Homo sapiens: one gene and its partners. The main gene of each other region encodes a partner of the protein of the gene in region 2 in a complex. Each region holds a gene or a part of one and is shown on either strand. Other genes may lie near its edges.

Region 1 (8,759 bases), on a different chromosome or scaffold from region 2:
CTTTCTAAAATTCCTGAACACTATCTAGTGTTATCAAGAGTGTCACAGGGAGGAAATAAGATGAACGGACAGATGCACCATCCCCACCTCCCATAGCTCTCCCCCTTAATCCCCTCTAACCCCCATTCACCATCTCCCTTTGTGTTAGATGTCTGTTCATCCCACTTTATCCGATGCAGCATAAGACGCTTAAATTTCTTCTGGGCCTTGGGGCCTGGAAACAGAGAAGAATAATTTTGCCAGAACTGTGGAAGATGATGGGGTAGAAAGAACCTCTGAGCTCAGACATTAATGTGGTAGTTGAAGCAATCTCAGGAACCACATCTTAGGGCCTTCTACTCCAAAAAACACAGAAGCAGAGACCTAGCATATTATATCAGGTATGGCACTAAAATACGATCTTTTTCTCCTTTCTCCCCACAATGCTAATCACTCTAAGCCTAGGGTTGTCTGGGGACAGTCTCCCTCAAGTTTTTCAGACTCACCCCCTTCCACTACTACCACGTTGACATCCTTGTGCAGTACCACCACCCCTGTCAGGTACAGTTGCCCAGCATTGGCTTCAATCTTGAACTTCTTGGCTGGGTTGCTCAAATTTCGAACTCTGGAGAAGGGAAAGTTTAGTTATGTCTTCCATTTTAGCATCAGCAGCTGCCTGAATGGAGTGGCAAGTAAAAAGATGAATCCAAAATGGTTTCCTCTCTATAAACAAAGGCCTCTGGAGTAAACAAATAGATGAATGCTTAAAAGGTAGAGTTGATGAGTCTAGAAATATTTCCACACTCTTACATTTCTTCAAAGTCTAGCACTTTACATTAACCATTACATTACTAACCAAAGTTTACTCTAAGAGTCAGGGAGAGGTATTTACTATCATCCAAAAATACTTACAATCTCATTGTTCTTGACAATGTAAAGACCTACAGACTTTTTGTCCTCTAGACCCTTAGACTCTTATAATATAGGATTACTTGGCTGGGTGCGGTGGCTCATGCCTGTAATCCCAGCACTTTGGGAGGCCAAAGTGGGCAGATCACGAGGTCAGGAGTTTAAGACCAGCCTGGCCAACATGGTGAAACCCCATCTCTACTAAAAATACAAAAATTAGCCGGGCGTGGGGGTGCGTGCCTGTAATCCTAGCTACTCAGGAGGCTGAGGCAGGAGAATTGCTTGAACTTGGGAGGCAGAGGTTGCAGTGCGCTGAGATCGCGCCATTGCACTCCTGCCTGGGCAACAAGACTGAAACTCCGTCTCAAAATAAATAAATAAATAAATAAAATATATATATAGGATCACTATATAGGCATGAAAATTTTCTAGGAGGATATGTGAAAAACTGTTAATAGCAATTACCTAAAGAGAGTGGTTCTAAGGGATCAGAGAATAGAAAGGAGACATTTTGAGTAAGTATTCTTCTGTGTTGTCAGACAATTTTTTAAATCTTAATAAGCATTCACTATTTTTGTGATAATGTACCACTTTTATAATAAAGAACTAGTTAATAGAAATAAGCACATTTTAAAAATAGAAGATACACATGTACTCAACATAAAAGAATAAAAACATTAAATCAACACAAAGGTAGAAAAATATTTACAACATATAAAATGCATTTTGGAGTGAGGATGAAACACAGCAATACATCAGGGTAAGGATATGACTACGGAGGAAAGAAAATTTGTAATGCTTCCATGGATGTTGGAAGCAAACTCAGACCATTTAAAAAAAAAAAGATGAAAAAAAAAAGAAATAGGATGATATTTTATAGTTCTCAAAGGACATACAATCTTTAGTTCACATCTTGGCCTGAACAAGTATATTGACTTGTTCAGAACTAATATTCTGGTAAAAAAAAAAAGAAGACTTGAGAGGGAAGAACTGGGTAACCATAAACATAAGTCATTAACTCTCGCTATTTTACAAGATTTACTAGCTCTTGATCCACACTAGGGTCATTAAAAGAGAGTAGGAACTGGTGTTAGGTATGCTTTTAGGCCACAATGATTCTGCCTCAAGCACTTGGAAAATGTTTTAGTAATTCTAAGGGGAAGTTTGGCCCAGTATGGACACCTACCTATATACAGATATGTGTACCCCCTGTGAAATGTCTTCTTTAAGCTTTTTAATTTTCTTGACCTTTCTCTGTTCTGCTGTGAGTTTTCGGGCAGCGTTGGCCTCTTCATGCGCTCTGTCGTGACAGGAAGGACATCCACAAGTGAGAAAGGCATTGAAGATCAGAGGCAGGGCTGAGGGAAAGAGAGAGCAACGGAGAACTCTCCCCTCCCTCCAAATATGGACCCCCCAGAAGAGTTTGGGAAAGGTACTTGCCCGAGGTTTCCACCCAATCCCATGGCACTTACTTCTGTCTTTTTGCCATCTGAGCTCTGACGTGGGCTTCTACCTTCGTGGGGTCTTGAACAGCTTCTGTTCCTAATACTCGCATCAAATTAGAAATTCTCACTGCAGTGAAGAGAGGACAACAATCAGTCTTTGAAGTCACTTCTCCAGCTGGAGTAACTTGTTATTTCTTCCATACCAATTCATATTATTTACCTATTTCAAATCTCTGCTCTAAACTCACTTCCTCCAATAACTCCTATCTTGAAAATCCCATCCAATCACTTCAGCATTTGCAGAAGTTCACACAATTAAGTTGAAGATTGGTATGCATTTACATTATCTGAAAATTTATGAAGGACGTGGAACTTAATTCCTTTCATATTTTTCACACTGATCACAGCATCTAGTGAAAGAGCTTATAAATAATAGTGCTCAGTCAAAATACTGCTGAACGAGAATGTAACTACAGGGTCAAGTTTTTTATCCTGTACTTTCATTGTAAAAATTAAAACATTAAGAATTATGTACATAAAAAGTCTACGCAAATACTGCAACTACTATCTCCATGAATTTCAAGACCTGTATTCTTCCAGGAAAACCAGAGTGTTGTATGATCAGTATGCTTAAAAATAAGCCATAAATGGCCTCTATAATGAATGTGTTGACCTATCTTAATATGAAAAGATGGTAGAAAACTTGGAGAAAAAGGACCCCAAGAATAATTCTTAGAAACAGAAATCACTCAAACACAGAGATGTTAAAGTTCCTCCAGGATTAAAGACATAAACTTGCCACTCTTTTTAACAGAAGAGGCCACTGAGAAATGCACCTTTGGGTTCTGGAGGAGGCATCAGGCCCAGCCTGACTTTTTCTTGTAGTTCCTTCTGTGCTTCCCTCCTTGTTTGTCTCCGAAGTTTTTTCTGTTCCTTCTTGGTAAGATATACTCCCAGAGTAACTGGTGTGTCATTGTCAACTGTCAGGCAGAGATATTAGTATACCAAAGCAGTAAGAATACATATATATATATATATATTTTTTTTTTTTCTCTCTCTCACTCTGTCACCCAGGTTGGAGTGCAATGGCACGATCTCAGCTCACTGTAGCCTCTGCCTCCTGGGTTCAAGTAATTCTCCTGCCTCAGCCTCCCGAGTAGCTAGGATTACAGGCACACGCCACCATGCCTGGCTAATGTTTGTATTTTTAGTAGAGATGGGGTTTCACCATGTTGGCCAGGCATGAGCCACCAGGCCCGGACAGCAATAAAAATATTAAAGAAACCTAGGTAAATATCAATATCATTAAAAGAAACTTTAGGCTGGACACAGTGGCTTATGCCTGTAATTCTAGCACTTTGATAGGCCAAGGTGGGAGGATGGCGTGAGCCCAAGAGTTCGAGACCAGCCTGGACAACCAAGTGAGACCCAACTCTATTATAAACATTTTATGTAAAAAATATATTGAGGCCAGGTGCGGTGGATCACACCTGTAATCCCAGCACTTTGGGAGGCACGGGTGGGCAGATCACGAGGTCAAGAGATCGAGACCAGCCTGGCCAACATGGTGAAACCCTGACTCCACTAAAAATACAAAAATTAGCTGGGCGTGGTGGCACGCACCTGTAGTCCCAGCTACTCGGGAGGCTGAGGCAGGAGAATCACTTGAATCCGGGAGGTGGAGGTTGCAGTGAGCCGAGATTGTGCCACTTGCCACTGCACTCTAGCCTGGCAACACAGCGAGACTCCATTTCAAAAAACATGTGTGTGTGTGTGTGTGTGTATAAACTTTAAATAGAAAATGAAGAAAACTCGTTAATAAGGGATCAGTAAGATTAAAATCAGTTCAGGCCTGGTGCCCGGCAATATGGCTATGTTTTTAAAAAACATTCTTATCTTTCCTTTTGTTGAGACGGAGTCTCGCTCTGCTGCCCAGGCTGGAGTGCAGTGGCGCAATCTCAGCTCACTGCAAGCTCTGCCTCCTGGGTTCACACCATTCTCCTGCCTCAGCCTCCTGAGTAGCTGGGACTACAGGCACCCGCCACCACGTCTGGCTAATTTTTGTATTTTTAGTAGAGACGGGGTTTCACCTTGTTAGCCAGGATGGTGTTGATTTCTTGACCTCGTGATCTGCCCGCCTCGGCCTCCCAAAGTGCTGGGATTACAGGCATGAGCCACCTCGCCTGGCCTCTTATCTTTCTTAAGTAGTGTTCTTAGTTGTTTTCCTTTAAGCTGTTAAACCCCCTCATTCAATGATACCTGGCAAATGTAGAAAACAAAATTAGGGCCAGGTGCGGTGGCTCACGCCGGTAAACCCAGCACTTTGGGAAGCCTAGGTGGGCAGATCACTTGAGGTCAGGAGTTCAAGACAAGCATGACCAACATGGCAAAACCCTGTCTCTACTAAAAGTTCAAAAACTAGCCAGGTGTGGTGGCAGGCACCTATAATCCAAGCTACTCCGGAGGCTAAGGCCGGAGAATAGCTTCAACCCAGGGGGGTGAAAGTTGCAGTGAACGGAGATAGTGCCATTGCACTCCAGCCTGGGTGACAAAAGCGAAACTCCAACTCAAAAAAAAAAAAAAGGCCGGGCGCGGTGGCTCACACCTATAATCCCAGCACTTTGGGAGGCCAAGGCTGGCAGATCACCTGAGGTCAGGAGTTCAAGACCAGCCTGACCAAACATGGTGAAACCCTGTCTCTACTAAAAATACAAAATTAGCTGGGCGTGGTGGCACATGCCTGTAATCCCAGCTACTCAGGAGGCTGAGGCAGGAGAATTGCTTGAACCCAGGAGGCAGAGGTTGTGGTGAGCTGAGATCATGCCGTTGCACTGCAGCCTGGACCACAAGAGCGAAACTCCTCCTCAAAAAAAAAAAAAAAAAAAAAATAGAAGCAACTTTGTTTCCCAGTTTCAACTTTGGGAAACTAACAAAAAGCCCTTTGGAATTAGCATCCCTCACAGTGGGTAGTGGAGCATATCGCATCTAATAACACACCAACCCAAGAGTTTGGCTCTTGCATTTGCATTTAGCTGTGGATGCCACAACAACATGTGGTTCTATAAAAGGAGCAAGCTGAGGGCTCTTTCCTAGGAACAACCAGGGAACTGTAAATGTAAAGCTTCATGAAATTTTGGGTTTTTTTCTTTCTTTCTTTCTTCTTTTTTTTTTTTTTTTTTTTTTGAGACAAGGTCTGGCAGTATCATCCAGGCTGGAGTGCAGCAGCACCATCTCAGCTCACTGCAACTTCCACCTCCCAGGCTCAAGCCATCCTCCACACCTCAGCCTCCCAAGAGGCTGGGACTACAGATGCACACCACCATGCCCGGCTGATTTTTTATTTTTTGTAGAGATGGGGTTTTGCCATGTTGCCTAGATCTCGAACTCCTGAGCTCAAGCAATCTGCCCACCTCAGCCTCCCAAAGTGCAGTGATTACAGGCATAAGCCACCATACCCAGCCAAATTTTTTTTCCTTGAGATGGGTCTCACTGTGTTGCCCAGACTGGTCTTGAATTCTTGGCCTCAAGCAATCCTCCTGCCTTGGCCTCCGAAAGTGTTTGGATTAGAGGCATGAGCCACCATGCTTGGCTGTCTCATGAAATTCTAAGCACAGGAATATGCACTTAAAATGTATGTTCACTGGTCAAACAACAAACTATTGTCAGGAAAAAAACTGAATTAAAAAAAAGAATTACACATGGGTAGTGGCTATTGTATTGAACAGCATAGATACAGAACATGTTCCTCACTGTATAAATTTCCAATGGGTAATGCTGCTCTAGAGACTTGATTCAGGAATCTATACATTACCTGGAGGATTGAGCTGGGCTGGATGTTCAACAAGATTTGTGATTCCAAAATAATCTTCTCTCTTGGGATTTTCCTCTGTACTAAAATTGTAGGAAGAAAAGAAAACACGATATGCGGGTAGAGATGATTCTAAGAGAGGAGTCTCAGAAATACAATGAAAAAACCCACTCTCTATAATGGGTTCTTGTGCTTGATATACCTAAAATAGCATTTAGGTACCTAAAATATATAGTTAAATTACACATAATTTTCATGATGAGAAAACTGAGTCCCTCTATGGTTGAACACACTCTCCACAGCAATCATTCTCAACCTTTTTTCTACCATGCCACAGCTGACAGACGCTATGTTCTCTCATTAGTGACAATAAGTCCCTGGAACAGTGGCTGACAAAGAAGGGGCAACGAAAGGCTAAGACAAAATCTACTAAAGCCATGTATCAGAATGATGGAGCAGGGCCAGGTGATGTGGCTTATGCCTATAATCCCAGCACTTTGGGAGATGAAGGCAGGTGGATCACCTGAGGTCAGGAGTTTGAGACCAGTTTGGCCAAATAGTGAAACTCTTGTCTACTAAAAATATAAAAACTGGCCAGGTGTGGTGGTATTTGCCTGTAGTCCCGGATACTTATGAGGCTGAGCTAGAAGAACTGCTTCAACCCAGGAGACAGAGGTTGCAGCGAGCCGAGATTGTGCAACAGAGTGAGACTCTGTCTTAAAAAAAAAAAAAAAAAAAAAAAACGCCAGGCGTGGTGGCTCATGCCTGTAATCCCAGCCCTTTGGGAGGCTGAGGCGGGTGGATCACCTGAGGTCGGGAATTTGGGACCAGCCTGACCAACATGGAGAAACCTCGTCTCTACTAAAAACACCAAAAATTAGCCAGGCGTGGTGGTGCATGCCTATAATCTCAGCTACTTGGGAGGCTGAGGCAGGAGAATCACTTGAACCCAGGAGGCGGAGGCTGTGGTGAACCAAGATTGCTCCACTGCACTCCAGCCTGGGCAACAAGAGCGAAACTCCGTCTCAGGAAAAAAAAAAAAAAAATGGATGGAGCAGATATATTTAAAGCTCTTCAAATGTGTCTTATATCCTTTTTTTTTTTGAGACAGAGTTTCACCCTGTTGTCCAGGATAGAGTGCAGTGGTCATGATCATAGCTGACTGCAGCACAGACCCTCCTGGGCTCAAGTGATTCTCTCACATCAGCCTCCTGGGTAGCCAGGACTACAGGCACAAGCCACCATGCCCAGCTACTTTTTTTTTTTTTTTAATCTTTGTAGAAACGAGGTCTCACCATATTGCCCAAGCTGGTCTTTAACTCCTGGGCTCAAGCAATCCTTCAGCCCTCAGCCTCCCAAAGTGCTGGAATAACAGGTGTCAGCCACCGAGCCCAGCCTTATATGCTATATTTACTATTATCTCACCTACCAACTAATAATCCTTGCTCTATCACAATGAGATCTTTAGGAAATGTAAACACCTATAATACGTAGCAAAAGAATGTAATTAAGGAAAATAATGCTAAAAACAGGCAACAATGTGTAACAGAGCAAAAAGAATTCTAGACTTTGCTTTTGTAGATTGTGTCCCTGGTTATCCTACATTAACCCCAAAAGCTAAAAACAGCCTATATATATGATACATCACTTACAAATGCAGGAGCTTGGCCAGGTGCAGTGGCTCACGCCTGTAATCCCAGCACTTTGGGAGGCTAAGGTGGGCGGATCACCTGAGGTCAGGAGTTCGAGACCAGCCTGGCCAACATGGCAAAACCCTGTCTCTATCAAAAATACAAAAAGCAGATGGGCATGGTGGCACACACCTGTAGTCCCAGCTACTTGAGGGGCTGAGATTCAAGGAGAATTCAAGGAGAATCTCTTGAACCCGGGAGGTGGAGGTTGCAGTGAGCTGAGATCGTGCCACTGCACTCCAGCCTGGGTGACAGAGCGAGACTCCCTCTCAAAAAAAAAAAAAAAAAAAATAACAGGACCTTGTGTACAGTTACTTATCTCTCTTGGATTTAAAAATTTTAATTAATGAATGAGTACCATCCTTCCCACTAAAACCATAGCTTTACTAAAAGGTATTAACTTGAGTCTTAAACTCAGCTGATTAAAAACTGTTTTTTTAAAAAGGTACTAAAACAAACTCACAGATCAAAGCCATTGGGGATTATGTAAGAGTCCCACCACTCAATTTCAGGAATATCTCCTTCCTTTAGCTCCTTCTTAGGAGCAATGAGGGCAAGCCTAGTCGAAGTATGGATGCCTGTTTTTCGAGCTGCTTGTGAAATCTCTGCCTGTAGCTTCTCCAGTTGAGCCTAAAAACAAGATAATCCAAGACAGAAAGATAAATTGGAGTCATAGAAAACAGAATGTGTAGAATCTCAATTTTTTTTTTTTTTTGAGACGGAGTTTCGTTCTTCTTGCCCAGGCTGGAGTGCAATGGCATGGTCTTGGCTAACAGCAACCTCTACCTTCCAGGTTTAAGCGATTCTCCTGCCTAAGCCTCCTCAGTAGCTGGGATTACAGGCATGTGCCACCACCCTCAGCTAATTTTGTATTTTTAGTAGAGATGGGGTTTCTCCACGTTGCTCAGCCTGGTCTCAAACTCCCGA
Region 2 (6,466 bases):
CACTAGTTGTGCATAGGCAGCGTGTGTTGTGGGATGGCAAAGACCCTAAACAAGCCTGTTTAACTGTTCTTTTTTTTTTTGAGACATTTAAAATGGCCCCCAGGTTTAGTGCTGTCGTGTTCCTAAATTCAAGAAGGCTATGATGTGCCTTTTTGAGAAAATAAGTGTTAGATAAGCTTTGTTCATGGATGAGTTAGTGCTGCTAGCCATGAATTAACAAATCAGTAGTATATATGTATTACATATACTACTATATATGTCTCTAAACAGAAACACTCATAAAACAAGGTTATGTATTGGTTGGTTGATGAAAATGTGACTAGAGGCTTGCAGGAACTTAACCCTATATTTTCCCTAGAAGTAGTGGTTTAGTATTAACAGCAACTTTACACAACTACTGAAAATTCCAAGAATTGACTGCACTGGGTATCTACAGCCTTGCTATTATTACTATTTTCTTCATAAACTGAATCTCACTGTATATTAACATTTCTCAAAATATATGGAATACGTAAACAAAACCCTAAAACTTCACTGAGAAGAAAAGCTGGTTCAGATAGAGAACACTACTATGTTCCCACACAGAAAGAACTTAGTATTACAAAGTTTATCAGCCGGGTGTGGTGGCTCACGCCTGTAATCCCAGCACTTTGGGAGGCTGAGGCAGACGGATCACGAGGTCAGGAGATCGAGACCATCCTGGCTAACACGGTGAAACCCCGTCTCTACTAAAACTACAAAAAATTAGCCAGGCGTGGTGGTGGGTGCCTGTAGTCCCAGCTACTCGGGAGGCTGAGGCAGGAGAATGGCATGAACCCGGGAGGTGGAGCTTGCAGTGGACTGAGATTGCACCACTACACTCCAGCCTGGGTGACAGAGCAAGACTACGTCTCAAAAAAAAAAAATTTATCTTCCTTTTCAAAAGTACTCCTATTGGCTGGGCGCAGTGGCTCACACCTGTAATCTCAGCACTTTGGAAGCCTGAGGCAGGCAGATCGCTTGAGGTCTGGCATTAGAGACCAGCCTGGCCAAAATGGTGAAACCCTGTCTCTACTAAAAATACAAAGATTAGCTGGGTGTGGTGGTGCATGCCTGTAATCCCAGCTACTCGGGAGGCTGAGGCACGAGAATTGCTTGAACCCGGGACACAGAGGTTGCAGTGAGCCAAGATCGCACCACTGTACTCCAGCCTTGATGAAGGAGTGAGACTGTCTCAAAAAAAAAGAAAAGAAAAAAAAACGAAAAGAAAGTACTCCTCTTTATTTCACAGATCCACAAGAATTTCACATTAATAAAGGCCAGTATCAGATATACTTTTAATGCCTTTAGAAAATGTCTGCTGTTGGTTTATTATGACAGAGATTCTTCTTGTTATGGAGTTATTTTCTAGGTTAAGTCTTCAGGAACAAGAACTGTATGTTATTAAATGTTATATGTATGATATCTATTATAGGTAATACATGAATTGTTTGCTGACTACATTAATCTATTTCAAAATACTAAGTTATGCTCACATAATTATGATAGATTAAAAGAAACTGATATTTCATTTTCTATTCCTTCACTTTGGGTTTTCTATCTATATTCATAATACATTTCTTTAAAAACTAATGTTCGGCCGGACGCGGTGGCTCACGCCTGTAATCCCAGCACTTTGGGAGGCCGAGGCGGGCGAATCACGAGGTCAGGAGATTCAGACCATCCTGGCTAACACAGTGAAACCCCGTCTCTACTAAAAGTACAAAACATTAGCCGGGCATAGTGGTGGGCACCTGTAGTCTCAGCTACTCAGGAGGCTGAGGCAGGAGAATGGCGTGAACCCGGGAGGCAGAGTTTGCAGTGAGCCGAGATTGCACCACTGCACTCCAGCCTGGGTGACAGAGCTAGACTCTGTCTCAAAAAAAAAAAAAGAAAAGAAAAGAAAAGAAAAGAAAAGAAAAAAAACTAAAGTTCATATGTAACATCTCATTAAATATCAGATGTGTACAAAATGCTGCAGTCCTAAGATCCCATCTGCCTTTTAGGGGGTGGTGAAGAGGGGTCAAGAGAAGCATGTTAAACTCTAGTCTGTTTTCTATTCATACTATAATGCTTCCTTTATAGCAAATGATGGTAATCAGTTCAAATAGCTTTTTCTTCACCCAATTTTAGCCCTTTCACATGGAAATGAAATAATGACCTCTAGTGGAATAAACTCAATCTAGTACCCACTGTGATTTATTATTACATTTAAACTGTTACTAGACTGGCTTCACACTGCAAACATCCTAGACACAAAAACTCTCAAAACAAATTTTTTTTTTTTTTTTGAAACAGTCTCGCTCTGTCACTCAGGCTGAAGTGCAGTGGTGTGATCTCAGCTCACTGCAACCTCTGCCTCCAGGGTTCAAGTGATTCTCCTGCCTAAGCCTCCTGAGTAACTGAGATTACAGGCACCCGCCACCACACCAAGCTAATTTTTGTATTTTCAGTAGACAGGGTTTCACCATGTTACCCAGGCTGGTCTCGAACTCCTGACCTCAAGTGATTCGCCCATCTCGGCCTCCCAAAGTGCTGAGGTCACAGGCATGAGCCACCATGCCAGGACAAAACGTAATTTTAGATCTCTTATGCTAAGTGGCCATTTTCATTTAAATTTTAAATTTAAGAGCCAGGTCTCACTAGGTTACCCAGGCTGCTTGCAATCATAGCACGCTACAGCTTCAAATTCCCAGGCTATAGCGATCCTCTTGCCTTAGCCTCCCCAGTAGCAGGGACTACAAGTGTGCACCACGGCACTAAGCTCCAATTTTTATTTGTTATCTGCTTCTGTCTATAAGCTCCACGAGGACAGGAGCCAACTGTTTATTTCCTACTCTTGCAGGGTTTTGTTTGACCCCTTCAACAAATCTCTCCACTTGCTGCATTACAGGGGTCTCTTGCCTTTTGCCTTCTACTTGGATACAAGCAATAGGAGCACCAACAGGTCAGAAGATGGAAAAGAATGAAATCCAGTTATTTATTCCCCCAGCTTATTAATTAATGAAAGGTATAGGCCGGGGACGCACGGTGGCTCACGCCTGTAATCCCAGCACATTGGGAGGCCTCGTGCAGATCATGAGGTCAGGAGAACGAGACCATCCTAACACAGTGAAACCCCGTCTCTACTAAAAAGACAAAAAATTAGCTGGGTGTGGTGGCAGGCACCTGTAGTCCCAGCTACTCGGGAGGCTGAGGCAGGAGAATGGCCTGAACCCGGGAGGCAGAGCTTGCAGTGAGCCAAGATCGCGCCACTGTACTCCAGCCTGGGCAACAGAGCAAGACTGTCTCCAGAAAAAAAAAAAAAAAAAAAAAAAAAACGTGTGGAGAAAAATTACATATTGGTTGTATCTTGTCAAGCCAACTCACCTTTAATATATTTACTATTAAAGAATTGTCTTAAGTCTGGCCAACATGGTGAAACCCCGTCTCTACTAAAAATACAAAAAAATTAGCTGGGTGTGGTGGCGCACGCTTATAATCCCAGCTACTCTGGAGGCTGAGGCACAATAATCTCTTGAACCCGGGACGCAGAGGTTGCAGTGAGCCAAGATCGCACCACTGCACTCCAGCCTGGGTGACACAGCAAGACTCTGTCTCAAAAGAAAGAAAGAAAAAATTGTCTTAATCATCATGAATTTCATACATCCCTTTTTGGATCATAGAACCTGTAATACAACTGGGTGACCACTGCCAATAATTTGTGGGGGAAAAAACGCTAATTACTATATAACTTCAATGACTTACAAAAAAAAATTATCAACTGTGGAAAAATCAAAAAGCATTTGAATTTACTTGATGAGGTAAGATACTTAAAAAAATATATATCTAGTATTTATTTATACCAATATATACATTTATATATCTAATATATATGACAGGTACATTCTACATGTATACTAATATATCTATTAGTATATATTTATATATTAGTATAAATACATATATATATAAATACATATATATATCTCTCTCTCGATTTTTTTTTGAGACGTAGTCTCACTCCATCGCCCAGGCTGGAGTGCAGTGGCACAATCTCGGCTCACTGCAACCTCCGCCTCCTGGGTTCAAGCAATTCTCCTGCCTCGGCCTCATGAGTAGCTGGGATTACAGGCGCCTGTCACTGCACCTGGCTAACTTTTGTATTTTTAGTAGAAATGGGGTTTCACCCTCTTGGCCAAGCTGGTCTTCAACTCCTGACCTCGTGATCCACCTGCCTCGGCCTCCCAAAGTGCTGGGATTACAGGCGTGAGCCACCACACCCAGGCTAAACTTTTTTAAGGTAACGATCTTTGCAGAAAATTTCTTTACTTAAAAAAAAAAAAACTCACATACATGATGAAAATACAGATTTAAGCCACCCACATCCTCAGTTGTTTTCCTTAGCATATAAATACTTCGTAGTAAGCTTTACAAAGAACTGATGCACTGAGAGACATTTTTTCTGAGCTTAGCAAATCAAAAACAATTTTTAAAAGTCCTTATTAACAATTAGAACAGTTTTGCTGTCAAATAAAGTAGGTCTTTTCTCTTTTATTCTCAAAGAACCCCTTAATAAAGGAGGCACTGACAGGTACATTACACATTAATAGGAGATTTTAACACTGCTCATAACTGATAATCTAGTGACCATTAACTCCAAGTTATAACTTGGAAAACATAAAACTATATCCTATTAAGAACTGATTAAAAAGCAAAAGAAACAAAAGTAAGACATTAGCAGCTAGACAACAAAGCAATGACCCTTAATTTAGAAGACAACTTTTTACCAGGTACCTAAGACTCCGTGGAGTAAAACTCAGGAAAGGAGAATCAATTCTAGACCCCATCCCATAAGGACTTTAGTTTCCGAAATACCAAAACAAACTTCTTACTTCCCCTGTGGGTAGGTGCCACAGAATGAAGAGTAAAGCAATAAAATGCATATTCAGTGCATGTGAAGTAGAAGGGTATATATCCTATATATATTGTTAAGTTTAGCCTAAAGTCTCTTTACATATCTCAAGTTCAGCTTAAAGGTTTCTCAGTACATAGAACTGTAGCCTAACTGGACGTGTAAACAGACGGTACCCTACTCTTGTGGCAATCACTAAGTTTCAGCCAACCAAAGACAGCGAACTGTTCAAACCATATTCAAATAAGGCAAACGCTGAACTGTAACTAATCCGGCTGTTGCTGTATCTCACTTCCATTTTCCATACATCACTTTCCTTCTGTCCATAAATCTTCAACTATGCAGCTGGGCTGAAGCCTCTGAGCCTATTATGGTTCAGGGGCTACCTGATTTGTGAATTGTCCTTTGCTCAATTAAACTCTGCCAAATTTAATTTGTCTAAGGCTTTTATTTTAACCTTATTCATCATAAAAAGAAAAAGAAAAATTTTAGTTCAAAAACTTAAAACCTGATCAACTAAAAATGAAACTGCCCAGTAGAAATGCTTAGCTCTCACTGTGGTAATTTCGTGAATGTGGAGGAAACTACTAAAACTTTGATATACTAAATAGACAGCTCTGTCCCACATTTATGTTTATTAAAAACTGACATAAACAAACACAACCTGTACAAAAAATATCCCAAATCTCATATGACTTTGAAATCTTGAGAGACATTATCGCCTAGGACCCCCTCTTCCTCTGCCACGGCCACGTCCTCTTCCTCTTCCTCTTCCTCTGCCTCTTCCTGCAACTGAAGGAAAAGAAAAACAAACCAAGTTCAATTCTCTCCTGCACCAATGTTACCTAGACACCACAAACAACATTTACACACACACCTTTCCCTGTTTATAGCTCTTTATTAGTAGCTACAGTAAATAAAGTTTAACTAGCTTCTGTTAAATGTGTTAGACTTCAGATTCCCTCCACCCCCCAACACATTATCATGCAGAACCAATAACTAAAGGCCTAGGGAGATTATTATTTGTTTCATTTCAATTTATTTACTAAGAAATGTGTCAAATTTAAAAATACTTTTTCTTTATATCATGTCTCAAATTCACCATAAAATGATTTGAACCTCACAAAAAAAGGGAAGATATATATCACAGAATAAAACATGATCACCTTGATGCCAGAGTTTTGGTAACTGAATAAAATCCAAGCAAGTTAATTCAAAACCAGGAAAGTTTAAATGTATTACATCAAATCACAATCTTATTAACTCTTCAGAAAATTAAAACTCATTTGACCTACACATAATCTAGTGCTTTAATCCAAATAGTAATATCCCTACTGGGTCATCCTAACTCTAGTTGAGTATCATGGTGATAGGGAATTCATGACCCAAATAAACTTATTTCATCTTCAGACAGCTAAGAATATTAGAAAATCTTGACATAGAAGTCAGTCACATTCTAAATGTTTTTGTTTTTGTTTTTTAAATACAGGGTCTCACTCTGTAGTCCCATCTGGAGTGTAATTACACCTCACTGCAGCCTTGAACTCCTGGGCT
Region 3 (8,759 bases), on a different chromosome or scaffold from region 2:
GTTAAGTTCTGTTGCAATTATGTGTACCTGCAGAATTCACCTTTGGCGGAAGAATTCCTGAGAACCTGAAAAAAAGAAACCCTACCTTAAGTGTGAGATAAAAACTGGCTGAAAGGGAATCTTAAACAATCTGTAAAATATTGACTGCTAAATGGCTGAGTAAGCACAATTTAAACATGCTGTTTGCAAAACTCCAGTATAAGAAATAGCTGTTTCCACTAATCTTGTACTAGGAAGCACCAGCATTACTTTTCTCCTAAAAGGGAATTAGAAAAGTGTGATGCCTGAAAATTGACTGACCATTTACCTCACTAATTTCCTCTATGAGCACAACACATCAATTCTTTGCAACAGTAGTAATAGTTCAATATATCTTAACAACCCCTCCCCAAAGAAAATTTTCAAAATATGGGACTCTGAAAAACCTGACTGCAGAAACAAAGTAACTTTACAGAGCTTACTTGATTTTTCCCCTCTTTATTTCCAAATTGATTTGGTTCCCTGAAAAGAACTTTAAAAGACTCAAACAAAAAATTCTGTCCAAAATAACTGGAAGCTTAATCATCGGCATTTCTTCCCAAGCCAGGTGAAACGTATTGCAAGAAGGCACAAAAACTGCTACCAGTGCACTAGGACTCTACTTTGGGTAGACTTAGCCACTAATTTTTGTTTAAAGTGATATATCCAAGATTCAAATATTTTATCTTATGCTCATTTTAGAATGATGTAAAAAAAAGAACACTGGTACAGTTGGGGTTTTGAAAAATAACCAGACACTAAACTAGTAATAGCAATTATATCTATGGAATATAGATATATTCCCCCACGGATTATGGAAAACTTCCAAGTTATGCTATTTCTGTCTGAATTACTTATAAGCTTCATTACTTCTATAATGAGAATTTTCTGAGAATTTTATAAAAAATTCATAAAAATACTTTTCTCAAAGTATAACAGCAAATGAATTACTTTAATACTGGTAAAAGGAGCTTACTGGCCCTATAATCAGCTACTTTTCAGAAGCCAGTTAAAAGCCAAAGAGAAGGTGGCCAATTCTCTTACTTAGTATGATTTCTTGGTGAAGTCTAGAAGGGTAAAAGTTAACAGAAAAGTATCAATAAGATGAATTTCTCGTTTACTTTCCAACACCAGACTAGACACTTTTCATAACACGAACAACTGCATTACACTTCAAATGAAACAGACTCTTTAGAAGACATTGTCTAATATCACCTATCAGTTCTTTCTTCCAGGGGACACTAATTTACAGATTATCCTAAAAGAAAGATTATCCAGAAGTGTCAAACACTTGACACTTCCAAATTTAAAAAATCTTACCGTCTTACTGGAGATCTACTCCTTCTATGCCTTGGTGGAGGAGGCATTCTTCTTGGCGGAGTTCTTCTTCGAGGAGATGGCCGCCTTCTTGGGCTTGGCCGCCTTCTAGGTGAATACGATCTGCCATAACAAAGAGAATTAGGTCCTGAATAAACCAGGAGTGAGGAATTTCTTGGCTTAGTTTTCTCAATGGCCACATCTAAAAAATAAATTTCAAAGATCAAAATTTTCCATTTATGTAGATTTTTATGGTACACAGAAAAGTGTCCTCAAATTCTCTGTGTACATTCAAAAAATATTTGTACTAAACATCTTCTACCACTTTGAAATTATTTATCTAATTGTACCCAGTAGAGTAGTATATAAAACCTAAGATCTTTGTTGATCTTAAAGCCACAACTCACCTTGATCGGGATCTATGGCGCCGTCTAGGTCGAGTGTGAGAAGGAGAGCGGGACCGCGTCCGGGATCTTGATTTGGAGCGTGACCGAGATCGTGGTCGGGTCTTCTCCTTCTCCTTTTCTTTTTTGGAATTTTTTTCCGGAGAAGGTTCTTTAGGCTCTGGTATAGGTTCAGGTTTGGGAACTTTCAGAATGTCACTGTGGAAACAAAAGCTTTTTTTTTTTTTTTTGCCTTCTTGTACTCAGCCTTCTAAATCATTACACAATGATGTAATAAAGTATTTCTAAAACTTTTCAAAATTCACAGACTTGTCTCTATCTCCAAAAGACACATAAGTATGTATGTACCTATCACTGAAACCCAGAGAGCAACTAATAATTCCAACCATGTACATTTTCTTTTCTTCTTCTGAGACAGGGTCTCACTCTTGTCACTCAGGCTGGAGTGTACTGGCATGATTTTGGCTCACTGCAGCTTCAACCTCCCAGGCTCAAGTGATCCTCCTGAGTAGCTGGGACTATAGGCATGTGCCAACCATGCCCGGCTAATTTGTGTGTGTGTGTGTACATATATATATATATATATATATATATATATATATTTTTAGTACAGATGGAGTTTCACCATGTTGCCCCAGGCTGCTCTCTAACTTGTGAGCTCAAGCGATCCACCCACCTCAGCCTCCCCAAGTGCCGAGATTACAGGCATGCACCCCCGCATCTGGCAACCACATACATTTCTTAAAAGTGCGAAGTTGTCCACAATACGTTGAGGAAAAAAAGCAAGTTACAATATATAAAATACCTGAAACAATACAACCAAAAGATAGTAATGGTCACCCTCTGGGGCATTTTCTTCTAATATACTCTCCTAAACAATTTCTTTTCAACAAACTAATTTTATAATTTAAAAAATCTAAAAGGAAAATAAGTAGTTTTATTTTAACTCAGATGTCATATTTGCAGTCACTATTAATCTAAAATTGTGATTATTTATAAATGAATTTTTATATACTTGCCTAGTAGAAGTAGCCTCTTGTACTGAAGGTTCTTTTACTTTCACTGAAGGTTCTGGGAGCTCTGGAGTTTTTTCCTTCTTTTCTGGAGCAGGGGAAGGACTCCGGCTCTTGGTTCTGTGACGGGGAGATCGAGAATGACTGCGCTTTCTCTCTCTCCTGACAGGGGAAGATCGTCTTCTAGGGGAAGGAGATCTGGATTTGCGTCTAGGATGAAAGTAATTTTTTTCAGGTTTTTAAATAACATGGATTGGAAGAGAGGAGTCAAAGGGAGAAGTGAGGATTAATCTTTAGTTACACTACTGTTTATATCTGAGATGTTTCCCTATGGAAATAAGACATGCTAACCTAATCTACTTGACAGGGAAGAGAAAGACAAGCAAATGAAAGATAACATTCTCGAGTATATCAGTTATAAGGGAGAAAAGCACTAACTTGGGACTCTAGACTTAGGTTCTTAATCATTCCCAGAGATCAAAAGACCAACTTTTCAGAGGCAAAGAGGATGCTTTAAAGCAAACAATGATAATCCTTGACAACAAATCAAACTCCCAAACATAAAACATTTAGATGCGGACAGATTACAATGGAGTTCATCAGGAAGAGCCTCAGTATGCCAGAAAAATGACTAATACCATTAAAGCAACATGTTCTTCAGAAAAGAGAAATATACATCAAACATCCAGAAGATAGCTTTTTTGCGAGAGGAGAAGCCCTCTTTCTTAACAGTAGCCTGCCTAACTCGAAGGGTTTTTCTCTTATTCACACAGAAGGAAAATGGCAGACATACTTCATCAATAGTCAAGTAGTTACCACCATGACAATTTGTGCTTAGCTCTATAAATATTACTTCCATAAGGAGATTTTAGTATCAAATATATAAATGAAAGGGACAAAGAAATTACCTCTTCTCTTTACTAATTCCAGCAGACATTTATGAAAGAAATAAGCAGAACCCTAAAAATAAAAAGCCTAATGGAGTTCTCACCTTTCACCACAAATATAGAAGCTGAGCCGTGGATTTAAAAATGTGAACCTAACAATAGTCTCACTGGAAGAAGAAAACAAATAAATGATCTGAAGTTTGGGTTCAGTACAACCATCTAAGAAAAGCAGAACAGGGAATTAGGTAAGTATTACATGAACGGCTAATGAGTACAGATTTCGAGTACAGATTTCTTTTTAGAAGAAAGGAAATGGAAAGAAAAAGTGAGTCAGAGTACATTTTTAAAAACCCAAATTAACTGTTATGAACTAAAGCAATATGGAAGAAAAAGTTTAAAGTTTTGATTTAGGAATTTAGAGTTGGATAATTTATGAACATCTGCGAGACACTCATGGCTAAATTATCTGTCTCAAACAAAATATGACAGATTTCTTTAGTCCAGAGGCAAGGCACAGGTCACCATGAAAACTGCATGATGGAACAAATTCCTTGAATAGCGCTGTTAGATTCCTTTTTAACTAAGGAAGTTTCTTAAGACCTAAAGTACCTGTAAAACATCAGTTATGCATCTATTGTATGATACCTTCTTGGGCTACGAGACCGCTCCCTTTTTTCTCTGCTGCTTTCTTTTTCTTCCTTATCTCTTTTATCTTTGTCTTCATCTTGCTTTTTCATAGATGCCAGTTTTTCTTGTTCAATCTGCAAAGACCAGGTTTTCAAAATACACATAGTTGAACATTTGAGAACAAACTGAAGACTACTTTCTACGTGTGTTAAACACCAATGCTATTATCATTTCATCGGCCTCTTCTTTTGAACCAGACCTGTTCTTTCTTCACCTACACTACAGATACGCATTAAGACTGGTATTATCGCCACTCATTTACAAATAAATATTCACTGAAAGTTAATCTCTAAGACCTGAACTAAAGAGATGTTTTCAAGCTTACTTCAAAAAAATAAAAATAAAAATAAAAAATAAAATAAAAAAGAAAATCACTTTCACATTGACCTTATTCTTTCTGGGAGTTCATCTGTATTGCCCATATTAAGAGTTTATGCTGGCTGGGCACGGTGGCTCACGTCTATAATCCCGCCAAGGGCGGGCAGATCACTTGAGGTCAGGAGTTCGAGACAAGTCTGGCCAACATGGCAAAATCCCGTCTGTACTAAAAATACAAAAATGAGTTGGATGTGGTGGTGTGCGCCTGTAATCCCAGCTACTCAGGAGACTGAGGCATGAGAATCGCTTGAACTCAGGAGGTGAAAGCTGCAGTGAGCAGAGACCACACCACTGCACTCTAGCCTGGGTGACAGACTGAAACTGTGTCTCAAAAAAACAACAAACCAAAAATCCTTATGCTTACCTTTCAGTGTTAAATTCAAATTTCTTTTAAGCTACATGCACTCACATATTAAGAATTTGTAAAAATCTAGCAAATCACTAGACTGGGAAAATGACATTCTAAACTCAATGTTTGGTTGGAGGGAGGAGCAGTGAACCAAAACTGAATGTTTAAATACAGTACAGCAAAGCAAAACTACATGAAGATCCTAGCTGAGTCATATACTACCTAAGGTGTCTCGGCAGCCTGGCCAATACTCTCAAATCGACATTACAGAAAAGAAAAGGTTATTACCTGTCTTTGTTTTATTTCTTCTTTCTTCAGTTCTAGGAAAGCAGAAGGGATTCCCGCGATGTTTTCTTGTGCACTTAGCAGCAGGGGCCACAGTTCTCCCATAAATTCTCGAGCATTTTTTCCATTCAAAAATCCAGTCAGGTTGATTTGCATCATTTTGGAGTCTGGATTCTGCAAAAAGACACGACAGGAAGAAAAACAGGTTACTTCAAAACCAACCAACCAACAAATCAACCAACCTAAAACTCATTTAAATTAGTATTTTTTAAGTCTACCATAGGGGCTTAGACATATATATAGTCCTTACTATTTTACAAATAGTCTTCCCTAGTAGCTTCTCAGCAATATAATCTCTAACAGATTACCAAATTCTCTCTCACTCTACCAAAAGCATCAGAGCAGCCTGTTAATCCTTTGTGGATTTCGTAAGTATTTTTAGACTCTGTGGCTGTTAGTGGGCCTTACATTTATTAACTTTAAAAACCATCATGAAACATCCACAAATTCTAGTATTTACTAACAAGAAAAGTATTTGCTTGCCTGGAAATTTTCCCCCAATGAGAAACGGAAAAAGTACATAAACTGCTCCCTAACACTACAGATAGCTTTGCATAAAATATCTATTGTCCAGTTATGAAAACTAACAAGTTATGCATGCAGTCTGTAACTTCTGAGGGCTAAGCTAAAGGCCTGAGTTTTATATAAGGAAAATCTATTATAACAATGCCTCAAATTCTCAACTGTCCACAAAGTGCTAAGAGGTCAAGATTTCTCAAAAATAATTGGGTTTTTAAATGCTAAATCCGTTGGTCAAGCAACAAGGTCTGTATAACAAGCACAGCTCAATAGCACAAAGCAAGTACAGATTCCAGGTGTCTTCAGTTTCTTCTTGGAACCTTGGGGGTTTGGAATCGCCAAGTCCCCTGTAGAGAAAGATGTTCCCTTGGCTTGCTTCCGACTCCCTACTGCAACTCAACCACCTTGAGTTTAATGTTATATCATTTATCTAAATTGCAAAAGACGAACAAGCAATAATGAGTACACAACCACAAAAAAAGAATTGTCTTAAAAAGTTCTAAACTTTAATCTCATGCTCACTACAAGGGGAATACTACCAGATACTTAGGTTTTTAAAATGCACTAAAATACACATCAGTAAAGCATTTCTCCAATAAAATCTATCTTCAATCATCATTTAAAAAACTTTCTCCCCTGTTCCTGGTTTTCTAAGATGCATATACTTTATAGAAAGTGCATTCTTAAAATTAGTCTTTAAAAATATTCAAAACAAAATACAAACACCAAATTATTTTAAAACTAGAAATACCTTATCAGTTGAAATGCCAACTGTTCTGTCAAAACATAGGGTGAACTCTTTGGGGGAAATGATTAATGTAAAAGTAAATTCACATTGGTATATATGCAAAAAGGTCATATGGTACATATCTTAACTGTCCTTTGGGTTGCTGTGGCAAAACAGAAACTGTCTTACAATAAGAATGTTCTTAAACATCAGTTATATCATCATATTATCTCATGTATAAAGGAACAATTATATGCTGCCAATTTGTCTGAAGTTTAAGTATAAACAAAAATCCTGTCTCTAAAATGTAACTGATGACTAGCTGACATGCAGCTACAAAGACCTTAGTTCCTTTAAAAACAATATCCAATCAAATCAGAATTGCCCCTCATGCTTCACATAAATGTCCATCTCATAATAGTATTTTAAAAGAGCAGTGTACAGCTTTACCCAATTGCTCTTTCCTGTTTGTGTTTTTTGTTGTTGTTGTTGATGTTTGGCCACTTTACACAACTCACCTCCAAACACACACTGCATCATCAAGGGAGTTGGGTCAGAGCGACATTGGGACACTCACTCTGCTGTGACCTAATAAGGTGATGGTGCTATACTTCAGACGCAAGGAATAACTTCCATTTTGGTTCAGGCCTTTTAAATCATAAATCACATTATCATTAGAAAATTGCTGTCAAAGTAACTTAACATGTAACAGCAAAATTACAAACAATAAGTTTGATTTTTCACCTGTGTAGCTTTCAAAACTATGCACCTTCACTAAACTTCCAGCCTTAATAGTTGTTTACAAAGTGAATTCTTTTCACAACAAACATTGTAAAATAACCCTTCTATATTTGCACTCCATAGAAAAAATTCAGTTTCCAAAGATTCACAAATTATATCACATATTCAGAAACAAGAGCCATTTGTATATTAGTACCTTCACTTCCAGCTGGTTGAATATAAACTCAATCACAACATCATCTTCAAACCCAAGGATTTCCGTTACTCTTTTTGTTATCCAAGGCTTTATAACCTCCAAATTTACTTTGCTCATGTCCACCTGATGAAACATAGAAACAATTAAGTACAACTTCACAATCCTAAAAAAAAATGCTCAAGTTAGAGTTCTGTCTACCAAAGTTCCTTTTAGCTTAGTTTTTTTGTTTGGCATAGTAGAATCTGCTAATTTTTTTTTTTTTTTTTTGAGACAGAGTCTTGCACTCTTGCCCAGGCTGGAGTGCAGTGGTGCTCAGCTCACTGCAAGCTCCGCCTCCCAGGTTCGTGCCATTCTCCTGCCTCAGCCTCCCAATTAGCTGGGATTACAGGCACCCGCCACCACGCCCGGCTAATTTTTTGTATTTTTAGTAGAGACAGGGTTTCACCGTGTTAGCCAGGATGGTCTCAATCTCCTGACATTGTGATTTGCCCGCCTCGGCCTCCCAAAGTGCTGGGATTACAGGCGTGAGCCACCTCGCCCAGCCACAATCTGCTAATTCTTATATGGCTGTGCCACGTGTGGTGGCTAAAAGGTGGTTAATGTTCAATTATGTTTTTCTTAGCATTCAAGTTACAATGCATCTCCAAAACAACCCCAGAACTTGAGTCAAGTAAGTGTGCTATAAAGATGCACAACAGTCTCATCCAGAAGAATACCTTTTTTTCTAGGCATTCTGCAAATTTCAGCTGCTTCAGTAGTTTCTTCTGTTTGTTGCTGAACCGATTATCCTGTTCTGCACTTGTTCCCTGCAGGAAGAGAACCACATCTTAACTAAGGGTTCAAAGTTAAATCCTTACTTTTTATCACCTACGACCTTTATAGCCAAAATAGGGTAACCAAGTAAACACAATACCAAACTAGTTTTCATAGATGAGAAATGCATACTCCTTCCCCAATGTAGCTGATACTTGGAAAACTTGACTGGATTTTTAAATTATCAAGTATATGTTCATCATAAGTCAAACCTAAAACAACAGTATACAGCATAAAGCCAACACCTCCTCATATCCAATGTTAGATTTGATTTGTATCCTTTCACACCTTTTCCTATGCTAATAGATACGTAGGGCTTTTCTGTTTAAATGAGAACACATTGAAGTATTTGAAATTTCATTCTT
Region 4 (7,632 bases), on a different chromosome or scaffold from region 2:
GTCTTGAACTCCTGAGCTCAAGCAATCCTCCTGCCTCAGCCTTCCAAAGTGCTAGGATTACAGGTGTGAGCCACCACATCCAGCCTATTCCACAAAAATTTACTGAGTACTTGCTGCGTGCCAAGAGCAGGGGTGAGCAAAACAGATACATTCTAGCAGGGGAGAGATACAGTAAACAATCATTATCCACACATGTATGTGGTTACAAACTGATGGGCATTATGAAAGAAAAGTACAAGGTATTTCTGTGAGGACATAAGAGGAAAATCTTATTCCAATTGCAGGCTCATGGTAAAAAGCTGCCCAAGGTGTCGACTGTAAGGGGCTAGCAAAAGCATCAAAGAAGGCCGGGTGTGGCGGCTCACGCTTATAATCCCAGTGCTTTGGGAGGCTGAGGTGGGTGGCTGGATCACCTGAGGTCAGGAGTTTGAGACCAGCCTGGCCAACATGGTGAAAACTATCTCTACTAAAAATACAAAAAATTAGCCAGACATGGTGGTGCACACCTATAACCCTGGCTACTTGGGAGGCTGAGGCAGGAGAATCGCTTGAACCCGGGAGGCAGAGGTTGCAGTGAGCCGCAATCACGCCATTGCACTCCAGCCTGGCTGACAGAGAGAAAAAAAAAAAAAAAAAAAGGCTGGGAGCGGTGGCTCACACCTATAATCCCAGCACTTTGGGAGGCTGAGGCAGGTGGATCATGAGGTCAGGAGATCGAGACCATTCTGGCTAATACGGTGAAACCTGTCTCTACTAAAAATACAAAAAAATTAGCTGGGCATGGTGGCGGGCGCCTGTAGTCCCAGCTACTTGGGAGGCTGAGGCAGCAGAATGGCATGAACCCAGGAGGTGGAGCTTGCAGTAAGCCGAGATCACAGGCACTGCACTCCAGGTTGGGCGACAGAGTGAGACTCCATCTCAAAAAAAAAAGCATCACAGAAAACTTCCACTTTCCCAGCTCTTCAATATTCCACCTTTTGGCATTTAGGGTGGATTTAACAAAAGGGACCACCATTGAGGCAGGGTAGCCACCTTAGGGAACACGAATGCTTTGGTTTAACTTGTCAACTGGGAAACCAAATTCATAAACTGACAAGTAGCCCAGAGGCCCAAGCTAAGTTTGACTGCAGATTGGGATGCTACAAGGGATCCAGCGAAGCCTTCTCTCTTGGTCAAAGAGTAGACAGTGGAGTTGGGGAACAATTTCTTTTGGGAAGAAACACAAAGATTATGACTTAAGGAACACAGGAGAGGAAATGAAAAGAGGATTAAGATGAGTAACAATGGAAATCCTCCTACAAAAGTTCATACAAGCTTCATGCTTTCAAAAGGGCTTTAAGATGGTGTGTGGTGGCTCACACCTGTAATCCAACACTTTTGAGAGGCTGAGGTGGGAGGATCACTTGAGCCCAGGAGTTGGAGACCAGCCTGGGCAATATAGTGAGACATTGTCTCTACAAAAAATTTAAAAATTAGCCAGACATAGTGGTGTGTGCTTGTAGTTCCAGCTACTCAGGAGGCTGAGGTGGAAGGACTGCTTGAGCCCAGGAGGCGGAGGTCGCAGTGAGCTGAGATTGTGCCACTGCACTCTGGCCTAGGAGACAGAGTGAGACCCTGTCTCAAAACAAACAAATAGGGCTAAAAAAAAAAGTTCACACGAGCCACCCAAAGTGCAAAGGCGAAGCTTCTGGCACTGTTCCAACAGTAGCTGCCTTTGGCCCCAGCAAACCTGGGACAGGAAGAACTTGAAGTCAATAGCCCTGCGGAGGGAGAGCCACTTTATCCCCTCTTGCACAGAGCCTTGCAACTACTTCCAAGGAGGATCACTCCTTCCAGCTCCTTGGGGGCAGCCCCTGGATAGACACCAAGGCATACTCCTGGGGCTCTGGTTGGCAGTACCTGGCCACAGAGATCCAAAGGCGGCCCACGGTGCATATCTGGGAGTCTTCCTCATCCTCCAGGGTGTAGTTCTCCCCCAGTACCTTCACAGGCTGCCCAGCATGAATGGTGCCACTCAGCACCCGGCCAAAGGCGTGAAACTGGACTCCATCATCTGTGCTGTACATCTTAGTAGTGTGGCACATCAGGGGGCCCTGGAAGAGGGGACAGGGTGCAGCTTCAACCACATCTATGCTCCGGGGAAGTACTACTCCCCGCCATCTTCCTTGACAGCAAGGACATGAGCTCTATGAGGAGCTAGAGAAAGATGAGGTAGTCTCATCTCCAAACCATGTTCTACCCCATCCCTCTGAGAAGGATGAATAGGAGACATGGCAGAGCAAAAATATTCTCCTCTTTTTTTTTTTTTGGGAGGATAAGGGCATTGAGGAAGAGACACAGATTTAAGATAGCAGAGAGGCACTATTGGCAAGATTACTTACTGTCCCAAATTTCCTCTTAAGATGTAACTCAATTCTCAACTGGCTGTGTATTTATGATAAGAAACTAGACAGCCTAAGAAATGGCTGGGAAAGATGTTTTTAAAAGCCAGGACTGACAAGATTAGCTACCATTTGTTGAATCTTTAGTATCTGCCAGGCAACATGCTGAACACAACCGTAACACTTCCTTAATCTTATTTAAATCTCATAACAACCGCTCACATTTTATTATGCTCGTGTTATAGACCAAGGCCTTGAGGCTCAGGAAATGTGAGTAATGTTCCCAAGGTCATAGCACTAGCGGTGGCAACATCAGGCTTTGCATTCAGGCCTGACTGTGCTCATGGGGATGGGGAGGCAAGGGTGGGAAAGTGGGCATTACTCCTGTGACCAGAAATCAGTATCCCCACACAGGAAGGGGAAAAAAAGACCAGAGAACCGGGGAGCCACATGCCCTTACATCAGGGTCACAGTCACTCATAGCCTCGCCGAGGTCGGAGTCCACACCACCGGTGTAGGTGTGCTCAATCTTGGGCTTGGCGCCCACCTTTGGAGAAGGGATATGCTGCACACACATGTCCACAAAGCCTGTGGATGGAGAAGAGAAAGCCATTAATACATGCCTTCCCAGGGAGCACGAGCAGGAGTTACTGAGCCATTCACAATGGTCAAAAAGCTCAAAGTGCGGGGACTGATTGTTAGCTCTAAAAGCTCTGGCACTATAGATAGTGATAGCCTGCTTCCTGGGAATGTGCTGCTAGAAGATTTGGAGTCACCCTGATGCCAGAAAAGAGCAAGCAGCAGGTATCAGTGGTACATGGTTCCTTGGAACTCAGCTGACAAAAAGTTTAAAGTACATCGATCTATGAACTTTTATTGGCTATACGCATTTACGTGGAACAAAATAAGCACCCCATCTAACATCTACTTAAAACAATTCCCAACCTGACTCCCCTTGAGAAACACTGCATGCATCTCTATTCAATAAGTTACCCCGTTTTCTGAACACATTAATAAACCACATAAGAGGGAACCCCCATGAGCACACTGGGATAGGCCTGTGTGCCTTCAATGGTATCTGGTGTGTCAGATTGATGGGCAGACCAAAATAAGCTATTAAAACTACGCACCTTGGGGGCCCAGACACCTAATTCCCACCGGACTTAGAATCAGAGACTGCTGAGAAGACCCTCAGCCATCACCCTTTCCACTTCCCTGATTTTACAGATAACAAATCAGAGTCATGAAGAATTAGGTGGCTGGCCCAGGGTCATCTCATGGAATGGCCAGGGCAGGATCGAGACAGACTCAGGTGGTTTTTTCAACCAGTCCAGTGTCTTTCTGCTGTATCACGTGCCTTCTGTGTAACTAACCAAGTCTCCCAAGTCCTAGCCTAGTGCTTTTTGCACTATTTCACACTACCCAAGCATCCACCTTCCCGGCTGCCCCCTGGAAAATATACCAGAACCACAGAGCCTGCCTCCCCATCTCATTTACTTGAACACTCCTCCTGGCAGGAAAATGTAATTCCTTTTGGTTCCCAAGATAGAATGTGTGCCATCATCCACTAAGGAAAGCAGCTAGGAAAAACACCAGTGTTCTGCATCTGAATCTGTGGTTTGTTGAAAAGATCCTCAGATTTCTGACCTCCATCGCTGGGTGAGAAAAAATTGCTGTGATACCTGTGGCAGGGCACGAGGATGACAGAGTTAAGGGGCCACGAGCACATTATTACCTGTGAACTCGCCAAAGAACTTTTTGCAGACCAGCCTGAGCAAGGGGCGGATGTTCAGCTTCAGCTCCTCCTTCGTCAGGTGGATGCCAAGCTCGTCTAGGGTCCGTGGGAGGCTGGTGTCCACGTCACCTACAACCTGTGAGGGTGTAAGACACCATGTCAGCTGTAGTGAGAGCCTGAGCATGGTGCTAGAGGGAGACAAGGGAAGTCCAAAGAAATATCTGAAGAACTCCTTCACAAGGCTCTCTTCTATGGAGACAAAGCTCTTGGCAAGGACAAAAGTTTGGTTTCAGCGGCATCTCTGCTACCTACCCTTCAAACCACAGGCAAAGCCAACTTGGTTACATCCCCATCCCAGCCAATAAACCAAGCACTCAGATTGATTACTCCCAGTGCTGCCCCCTGGTGTCTGAAAAGCAGCATCTCCTCCCACTCAGAAACTCCCTCACCTATTAAACAGAAGTCTATTTACAGACTTCTCAGATTTAGAGGATCATTGTGCACTGGAAGGAACCAAAAAAGGTCACCTTGCTGTGGATCCTGTCAGGGCAGGGCCAAGCTAAATCACCCTCAGTAGACTCAAGGTCTCTACTGAGGCAGGCTCTATAAATTTTTTTTATTAATCCATTCCAGTCTGACATAAGATACTAAGTATTTTTCAGCACTAATAAATTTTAATTGCTATTTTATCTTGTTGCTAGGTTTTGCTGTTTTGTCCACCGGAATGGCCACACACATTTTGTGTATGTGTGTGTCCACTGTGCTTATTAAATACCTGCATATTTTATTACTGCCTTGGGAGAAAGGTCTGTATGAAAATTCCTATAATTTTTACCCTTTTAGTCCCATCTTTTAGGGAGTACAAATTCATATAAACGTCATGCTATATTCCCTTTTTTAGAGACAGGGTCTCACTCTGTCACCCAGCCTGGAGTGCAGTGGTGTGATCACGGCTCACTGCAACCTCCACCTCCTGGGCTCAAGTGATCCTCCTGCCTCAGCCCCCCAAGTAGTTGGGACCACAGGCACACACCACTACAACAGCTAATTCTATTTTGTGCGGAGATAAAGGGTTTAGCCATGTTGTCCAAGCTGGTCTTGAACTCCTGATCTCAAGCGATCTGCCCACTGGGACCTCCCAAAGTGCTGGAATTACAGGCGTGAGCAACCACATCCGGCCACGTTATATTCTTTGCTTCTCAGCATTCCACATGCTTAATTAAATCCTTACCATCTCCTGACAAATGATTTCAATCTGACAAGCATCACATATTGTGCAAACAGTTAAGAAAGCAAAGTTCATACGAACATGCTTTGTTTTGTTTTTTTCTGAGACAGGGTCTCACTCCATCACTCAGGCTGGAATGCAGTGGTGTGTGATCATGGATCACTGCAGCTTTGACCACCAGGGTTCAAGCAATCCTCTGGCCTCAGCCTCCTGAGTAGCTGGGACCACAAGTGCACACCACCAGTCCCAGTTGATTTATTTTATTTTTTTTGAGACGGAGTCTTGCTCTGTCACCCAGGCTGGAGTGCAGTGGCACAATCTCAGCTCACTGCAGCCTCTGCCTCAAGAGTAGCTGGGATTACAAGCATGAGCCACCACGCCTGGCTAATTTTTGTATTTTTAGTAGAAATGGGGTCTTGCCATGTTGCCCAGGCTGGTCTTGAACTCCTGGACTCAAGTGATCCTCCCGCCTTGGCCTCCCAAAGCGTCTGGATTACAGGCCTGAGCCACTGTGCCCAGCTCAGACATACTTTAAGTGGTTGCAAAGCGGTTCATTTTATGGGATGTACCATCACTCATTTAATCAGATTAATGAGCATAACTGACAAACATTTAACTTATTTCCAGTTTTTTCCCTTTTCCTGATGTTACAAACAATGCTATAAGCTGAGGTGGTGGACTCCTGCCTGTAAGCCCAGCACTTTGGGAGGCCAAGGCAGGAGGATCACTTGAGGCTACAAGTTTGAGACCAGCTTGGGGATAATGGCAAGACCCTGTCTCTACACAAAATTTTTTAAAAGTTAGCCAGGCATGGTAGCTTGCACCTGCAGTCCCAGCTTCTCAGGAGGCTGAGGTGGGAGGATTGCTCAAACCTAGGAGTTTGAAGCTGCAGTGAGCTATGATCGTGCTATTGCACTCCCACCTGGGCGACAGAGTGGGACCCTATCTCTAAAAATGCTATAATAAACACTTTGACTTATATGAATAAGCAGGAGGACTTTCACAATTATATCTGTAAGTTAAATTTCCGTAACTGAAATGATTAGTTCTAAGTGTCACATTCTTCTCAATAGTCAAGATCTGTTCATAAACCTGCTCTAGGAGAAGTCTTTTCTTTCATACCTTTTCCCTTTCCTTTGATTTTTTTTTTTTTTTTTTTGGTGACAGAGTCTCGCTCTGTCGCCCAGGCTGGAGTGCAGTGGTGCAATCTCGGCTCACTGCAACCTCTGCCTCCTGAGTTCAAGCAATTCTCTTGCCTTAGCCTCCCGAGTAGCTGGGACTACAGGCGCCCGCCACCATGCCCAGCTAATTTTTTGTATTTTGGTGGAGACGGGGTTTCATCGTGTTGCCTAGGCTGGTCTCAAGCTCCTGAGCTCAGGCAATCTGCCCACCTCGGCCTCCCAAAGTGCTAGGATTACAGGCATGAGCCACCATGCCCGGGCCCCTTTCCTTTGATTTTAATAACACTTAGAGTAATGTAGTGTTCTGGATCCAGAAGATTACTTCTGGAACAATTAGTGACCAACAACCACCCTTATACTTGACATAAAACTGAGCAGGTTTAGGGACAGAGGGAAGTGTGAGTTCACCAGCTCTTCCACACTGTGCTTATAAGAGCAGATCTGCCCAGTGTGACCTGACACACTCACCTGGGCGAGGATCTTATAAAGAGGCTCCAAGATAAACTCCACGAAACTTCTCTGGGAGCTGCTAGTTGGGGCCTTTTTGGTGAACTTTCGCCTAAAAGGAAAAATAAGTTCTGAGTGACCCAGGGGAAAAGGCACTATCACTGATCCCAAGAGGCATTGTCTAAGTGCTGAATCTGAACAACAGCCCAGGGGAGGAATGTGTGTGTGACTGTAAAGTTTCCAGAGACAGATTCCTGGAAGGATACATGGTTATGACCCTCCTGGATGCCTGAGCTGGGCTGTAAAGACTTCAGGAGAAACAGCTTCTCACCAGATCAGAGCTTAGGAAGCCAACCCATTTAGGGGAGGAAAGACGGTAGTTTACATTAAAAAAAAAAAAAAAAGTAGGTATTTAATCTTTGAACTCAGAGAATTTCACTGTCCTCACTTACTGGGTAAATGATCACCCCTCTGGAAAGTCACGTCCCATACTCTACTTACGTCTTAGGGTTGAAGTAGATGTCACCCCAGAGTCTTTTAGCAAATTCTTGGTAATTAATGTCACCTATGGGAGAAGCCACACAATTATAATCTACCTAGCAAAGTGTCGTTCAAAATTCTGTTTCAGGTGCCACAGGTGGTTCATAGCTGAGAACTTCT

The links.
Region 1: SNRPD1 (region 2) and PRPF3 share a complex: the UniProt entries of both Homo sapiens proteins name them as parts of the U4/U6-U5 tri-snRNP complex.
Region 3: SNRPD1 (region 2) and SRRM1 share a complex: the UniProt entries of both Homo sapiens proteins name them as parts of the minor spliceosome.
Region 4: SNRPD1 (region 2) and EFTUD2 share a complex: the UniProt entries of both Homo sapiens proteins name them as parts of the minor spliceosome.

The regions. Positions count from the first base shown.
Region 1 is NC_000001.11:150,337,863-150,346,621, reverse strand, and holds part of PRPF3 (U4/U6 small nuclear ribonucleoprotein Prp3), read right to left. Parts: intron 8,463-8,759; coding exon 8,296-8,462; intron 6,225-8,295; coding exon 6,145-6,224; intron 4,593-6,144; coding exon of another isoform or gene 4,579-4,592; exon of another isoform or gene 4,470-4,578; intron 3,314-4,469; coding exon 3,170-3,313; intron 2,461-3,169; coding exon 2,361-2,460; intron 2,247-2,360; exon of another isoform or gene 2,189-2,246; coding exon 2,075-2,188; intron 605-2,074; coding exon 486-604; intron 215-485; coding exon 131-214; exon of another isoform or gene 121-130; intron 1-120. UniProt on the Homo sapiens protein: Plays a role in pre-mRNA splicing as component of the U4/U6-U5 tri-snRNP complex that is involved in spliceosome assembly, and as component of the precatalytic spliceosome (spliceosome B complex).
Region 2 is NC_000018.10:21,628,300-21,634,765, reverse strand, and holds the end of SNRPD1 (small nuclear ribonucleoprotein Sm D1), read right to left. Parts: intron 5,705-6,466; coding exon 5,628-5,704; 3' UTR 1,246-5,627; downstream 1-1,245. UniProt on the Homo sapiens protein: Plays a role in pre-mRNA splicing as a core component of the spliceosomal U1, U2, U4 and U5 small nuclear ribonucleoproteins (snRNPs), the building blocks of the spliceosome.
Region 3 is NC_000001.11:24,645,612-24,654,370, reverse strand, and holds part of SRRM1 (serine/arginine repetitive matrix protein 1), read right to left. Parts: intron 8,388-8,759; coding exon 8,298-8,387; intron 7,705-8,297; coding exon 7,582-7,704; exon of another isoform or gene 5,513-7,581; coding exon 5,342-5,512; intron 4,401-5,341; coding exon 4,285-4,400; intron 2,963-4,284; coding exon 2,759-2,962; intron 1,938-2,758; coding exon 1,743-1,937; intron 1,459-1,742; coding exon 1,339-1,458; intron 66-1,338; coding exon of another isoform or gene 28-65; intron 1-27. UniProt on the Homo sapiens protein: Part of pre- and post-splicing multiprotein mRNP complexes. As a component of the minor spliceosome, involved in the splicing of U12-type introns in pre-mRNAs. Involved in numerous pre-mRNA processing events.
Region 4 is NC_000017.11:44,860,814-44,868,445, forward strand, and holds part of EFTUD2 (116 kDa U5 small nuclear ribonucleoprotein component), read right to left. Parts: intron 7,538-7,632; coding exon 7,474-7,537; intron 7,085-7,473; coding exon 6,994-7,084; intron 4,253-6,993; coding exon 4,117-4,252; intron 2,970-4,116; coding exon 2,842-2,969; intron 2,094-2,841; coding exon 1,900-2,093; intron 1-1,899. UniProt on the Homo sapiens protein: Required for pre-mRNA splicing as component of the spliceosome, including pre-catalytic, catalytic and post-catalytic spliceosomal complexes. Component of the U5 snRNP and the U4/U6-U5 tri-snRNP complex, a building block of the spliceosome.